Linked DNA regions of Homo sapiens: region 1 is linked to region 2. The links come from fine-mapping of genetic effects on gene expression. Tissue or cell type: whole blood. Region 2 holds a variant in brackets; the other region holds the start of a gene. All regions are shown on one strand. Distances are from middle to middle.

Region 1 (2,755 bases), 28 kb before region 2:
TTGGAAAGAGTATTCAATATTAATACCAGTGCATTCTTGGGTGGCTCTGCAAGGAAAAAAAATGTTAACACTGATCATTTCCGGATGGGAGAATTATGGGTGCTTTTTATCGTCTTGACTATACTTTTCTAAATTATACAAACTCTTAACGATCGATATGCATTTCACAATTAATTGGTTTTAATAAAAAACGCGAGTTAGTGATCTGTTTCTGTATCTCTGGAGCACACCCCGAGACGACACAGCTCAGGGCATGTCCTGGTTAAACATTTGCAAAGAACGCTGTTCTCCAAGTTGGGCAGTGGAAGGTGTACAGTGTGTCAAGAGAAAAATCTACGTCTGAGGAGATATTTGTGACAGCGACCCGGACGCGGATGTGTCTGTCGTCCCCGCCGCCTCCTCCTCCTCCCCGCGTGGTACCCACCTCACCCCGTTGGGCCTCTTCCTCAAGTTCTGTACCTCTCTGGTCTCTTCCAGTTTTAATCTTTAAAAAGAAGAAGAAGCAGCAATGCATAAGCTGAGTGATTCCCCGCGGAATCCAAAGCTAACAGAGCCAATAAGGCACCTTCGAGGGCATCCCAGCCCAGCTACTGAGCCACCAGCACAGTGGTCCAGAGGACGACCTTGTGCCTAGACCCACCGGGAGTCAGAGCCACTGCGCATCCCGGAGGCATCTCTCTCAACCGTTCGAGCTTGGGGCGGTGGCCTCACCCCTTGAGCCTCAATTTCTGCGTCCGCAGAAGGAACCACCACCCGAGCTCACAGTTAACAATGTCAGCGAAGCGCCGAGCCGGTGGTGAGTCCCCCAAACAAGTCTATCTTTACCAAGCCTATGGGAGCCCCGCCCCAAACGCACCGAACCTCCTCTGAGTCCTGCTCATCTTCCTCTGACTCCGAGTCGCCCCGGCGGCGACGGAAAATCTTCCGGACGACCGGCATGGTGACAACGGCCGAGTTGTACAGCCGCCGCGCCTCTGCGCAGCGGCCCAGGCTGCTTCCGGCGCGCGGCAGAGCGGTCAGAGCGCCTGCCCCGTCTGGCCCCGCCCCCGGCACGCACAGTCCGCGTGGCCACGCCCCCTCTCCTGGCGTCAGCCTCTTCCGATTGGACGGCAGAGGGAAGGAGGTGGGGCGTCGCCAGACGGCCCCACAACCCTGCGCGTCGCCTCAGAGGGGGCGCGCTTGACTGACAGGCGGCGGCGGCGCAGTTGCGAGTGCAGGTGAGTTCCGGGCCGCCACCGGCTGCTTCTGTGGGCCGGGCCTCTGAGCATTGGCGACCCCAGCCCGGCTCCGGGCTGACAGGGCCTGGCTTCGCCAGGTACGCCAGACGCAGCGGCCCGGTGAGCGGAGCCCGGGACCCCCCCGGCCGCCGCCGCCCCTCTCCCCTCCTCCGGTCGGCGCCCAGGGGGGCCTCTGGGCCCCAGCACCACCCCACTCTGAGCTCCCTGGGGGCTCGTGGCTTCTCCAGAACCGGGGCCGCCCCCCTCTCATTTCTGCCGGGGCCTGACCTAGCGTTGAAAGCATCCGCGTGGCGTCTCGCGTCTCGGGCGCTGACTTTTCTTTCCTCGGGCTCTGAGCCCTGACGTGCGTTTTTTTCTTTCGGAACAAAAGATGACCACTTCTCTGCGGTGCTGACTTAGAGTCCCAGCGCCGACTGCCTCACAAATAATGGCCCCCAGCTTCTCCGCGAGGAGAGGCGCGTCTGATGTTTTGAAGCCACGCAAGAGGGTTTGAGCCGGGGGACTCCTCCTCGGTGCTTGCCGGCCACCCCCCTGGACCTTCACGGGTCTGGTTTTCCTCCTTCGGCAGGTCTGTCGCTCTACCCTCTGCCCCTTCCACCCCGAAGATGCTGTGAGGATAAAGTTTATTTGAAAAACTGGTATCAGCAAACGCTTAGGAAATACCTAAATGCATAAATAATGGCTTCTAGGACTTTTAAGAACCCCTTAAGTAACAGTAGTTTTCCTTTTCTCAGTGTCATCCCTTACTTTGAGAACTACCTCTTATTAAGCAGTTACTATGTGGCAGGCCCTGGGCAAAGCATCATCTCATTGAATTCTCCCAGCAATCCTTTGAGGTAGATTGTTTTTCGTTTTACAAATGAGAATGCGGAGTCTCCGAGGGGCAGTGCACGCCTCAAGTTACCCAGCTAGGAGGTGGAACAGGAATTGGTTGCAGGTCAGTCTCTGCCGCACGGTTTGCACAGGGCCTGGCACGGTAGGAGTGCAGTAGATGTTTGCTGCTGCTGCAGCTGCTGTTACATCTCATTGGCTAGGGGGAGGGGCCGATGGGGGCTGTCTGGGGTTCCCCTTTCTGGAAGACCATTCCGAAGCAGGGCAGCATTTCTAGAATGCCTTACGTTTTCTCTGGAACAGTCTCCACTGAGATTGTTCTTCTCTTCCTTGGGCTGGAAAAAATAGTAGACTCGGGACTTCTTGCACCAGCGTTTTATCTTTGGTCAAAAGCCATATATTAAAGTCTCAAAGTCTTGCCCTCTGCAGACTGGTTCAGCCAAACCCAGATGCACGTGCACTCACTGGATACGGAGTCCCTGTCAGATGATGGAGAGGCTCCTTGGGAATTGCTGCAGGAGTCCAGGGGGTCAACGTCTGCAGCTCTCACGCTCTCAGAGGTGGCTCTGAATCTGCCCATCAAGCAGCCCATCCACCAGGGGGTACTGGACACTACTAAGGAAAGGGCAAGAAGGCCAGGGGCATTTCTGGACCCTCCTCCTCAGCTGAAGTCCCAGGGTACAGAT
Region 2 (2,755 bases):
GATTTAAAGGCCCATCTGCAAGAGAGTATAAATTCTCATAGCCCTTGCAGCAAGTGCAGGAAAAATGGCACAAGACAACATGCATTGAAACAAGAAGGGGTTCAGAATCTGGTGAGTGGGGGAAAAAGGAGGTTATAAAGCATTGCATGGTACAATCCCGTTTTATGGGAGAAATGCGATTTTCCATTAAGGATAAGGCTGTGAGCTCCATGAGGCCAAGGATGTCTCCTGTGTCTGACGTGCTTCTCCTACCCAGTGGAGGTTAGAGATGCAGTATATGTATGCGGGAAGCAGAGAGGGAATGGGTACAAATGCGTAGAAAAGTCTGGAAGGCTATGTCCCAAAATGTTCCTAGTAACTATCCTCAGGTGGCAGGATGCAGGTCAATTATTGTTAATAATTGACCACACCCAGGCTGGGCGCAGTAGCCCACGCCTGTAATCCCAGCACTTTGGTAGGCCGAGGCAGATGGATCACCAGGTCAGGAGATAGAGACCATTCTGGCTAACATGGTGAAACCCTGTCTCTACTAAAAATACAAAAAACTAGCTGGACGTGGTGGCACGCACCTGTAGTCCCAGCTACTGGGGAGGCTGAGGCAGGAGAATCGCTTGAACCCGGGAGGCGGAGGTTGCAGTGAGCTGAGATCATGCCATTGCATTCCAGCCTGGGTGACAGAGCGAGACTCCGTCTCAAAAAAAAAAAGAAAAATTGACCGCACCCAATCCGTTTTAACTTTAATAACCTCTTTAAAGGCCCTGTCTTGGCTGGGCACCGTGGCTTACGCCTGTAATCCCAGCACTTTGGGAGGTCAAGGCAAGTGGATCGCCTGAGGTCAGGAGTTCAAGACCAGCCTGGCCAACTAGTAGAGCCTGTCTCTACTAAAAATACAAAAAAATTAGCCAGGCATTGTGGCATGTGCCTGTAATCCCAGCTACTCGGGAGGCTAAGGCAGGAGAAGCACTTGAACCCGGGAGGCAGAGGTTGCAATGAACCAAGATTGCACCACTGGACTCCAGCCTGGGCAACAGAGGGAGACTCTGTTTCAAAATAATAATAATAATAATAAAAAAATAAGGTAAGATAGATAAGATGAGATAAAATAAAAATGCCCTGTCTCTGGGAGTTAGGGCTTCGCAGATGAATTTTGGAGGATACAATTTTCTCATAACTGGTAGGAGCCTTCTAGTCACCTTCAGGAGTTTCTGGGTCCAGGGCCACTGTGCTCCCTGTGCGAGCACTCAGGGCTCCCCGCTATGCAGCCCTTTCTAAACTGCCGCATGCCTCATTTGCTCTCCTGACCTGGCTCTCTCTCCCCTGCACCCAGCCCGCCGCTGACTCAGTTCTTCTTGGAGTGTGGCGGCCTGGTGCGCACAGATAAGAAGCCAGCCCTGTGCAAGAGCTACCAGAAGCTGGTCTCTGAGGTCTGGCATAAGAAACGGTGAGCAGCTGCATCCCTAGCCTTGGGCGGTGTGTGGGGACTGGGGTTTCCTGTCAGCACCCATG[A/ATT]TTGAGTACTTCCTGTGGATTCAGCCCCCAGCGAGGACTTGCCTCACTTTGTCCCGGGTAATGCTTGCAGCAAGCCTGCGGGGTGGAAATTGCATCCAGTCCTGTTTTACAAATAGGGAAACTGAGGTGCAGAGCACTTTAAGTATCTTGCTCAAGGTCATAGAACCTGCAAAAAGTGAGCTAGAATTTGACCTACTGTTGACCCTACCGAGCAGCCACTGGTAGATGTCTTTGCCAAGAGACATGGTGACCCGGCCTCAGCCAGGACTGTGTGTGTAGAAGGAGGTGTGGGGCAGGGGAGCACAGACTGGATGGAGCTTCTGGCACAGTATGAAATTAATTTAAAGATCAGAGTCTGTGATTAGATCTGTTTCTCCAGGAAAAGTCAAAGTTGGGAATAATTTTAAATGAGCACATAGAAATATGTATTATGTGTAGAAGCGGATGAAAAACCAGCGTAGGGCCAGGCGCAGTGGCTCACGCCTGTAATCCCTGCACTTTGAGAGGCTGAGGCAGGTGGATCACGAGGTCAAGAGATCGAGACCGTTCTGGCCAACATGGTGAAACCCCGTGTCTAATAAAAATACAAAAATTAGCTGGGTGTGGTGGCGTGTGCCTGTAGTCCCAGCTACTCGGGAGGCTGAGGCAGGAGAATCACTTGAACCTGGGAGGCGGAGGTGGCAGTGAGCCGAGATCGCACCACTGCACTCCAGCCTGTTGACAAAGCGAGACTCTGTCTCAAAAAAAAAAAAACAAAAACAAAACAAACCAGCATGGGAGAAATATGTATTAAATGTAGAAGCAGATTAAAAACCAGCGTGGGGCCAGATGCAGTCACTGACACCTGTAAATCCAGCACTTTGGGAGGCCGAGGCAGGAGAATCATTTGAGCCTAGGAGTTTGAGACCGGCCTGGACAACACAGCAAGACCCCGCCTCTACAAAAACTACAAAATTAGCTGAGTGTGGTGTGAGCACTTGTGGTCCCAGCTACTCAGGAGGCTGAGGTGGGAGGATCGCTTGAGTCCAGGAAGTTGAGGCAGGCTGCAGTGAGCTTGATCATGCCATTGCACTTCAGCCTGGGCGACAGAGTGAGACCCTGTCTCAAAAAAAAAAAAAAAAAAAAAAAAGTCTGTGTGCAGTGGCTCACTCCTGTAATCCCAGTACTTTGGGAGGCCGAGGCGGGTGGATCGCAAGGTCAGGAGTTCGAGACCAGCCTGGCCAATGTGGTGAAACCCCGTCTCTACTAA

The links. PIP is the estimated chance that this variant, and not a neighbour inherited with it, causes the effect.
Region 1: it holds the start of USP20, and the variant in region 2 is fine-mapped to the expression of USP20 in whole blood (INTERVAL, PIP above 0.99).

What each region holds. Positions count from the first base shown.
Region 1 is chr9:129,834,283-129,837,037 of GRCh38, forward strand. USP20 (ubiquitin specific peptidase 20) reads left to right here and starts at 1,176. Exons shown (of 26, transcript NM_001110303.4): 1 at 1,176-1,217. It overlaps C9orf78 (chromosome 9 open reading frame 78), which reads right to left and starts at 993. Exons shown (of 9, transcript NM_016520.3): 1 at 857-993; 2 at 425-484. The coding sequence starts at 939. RefSeq lists silencers at 925-1,274, 1,305-1,454 and an enhancer at 1,426-1,926.
Region 2 is chr9:129,861,859-129,864,613 of GRCh38, forward strand. It overlaps USP20 (ubiquitin specific peptidase 20), which reads left to right. Exons shown (of 26, transcript NM_001110303.4): 9 at 1,328-1,441. Among named protein-coding and RNA genes, the nearest start is that of MIR6855, 6.4 kb to the right of the region's middle. RefSeq lists an enhancer at 1,358-1,527. The variant A/ATT (reference allele first, on the strand shown) is at 1,507.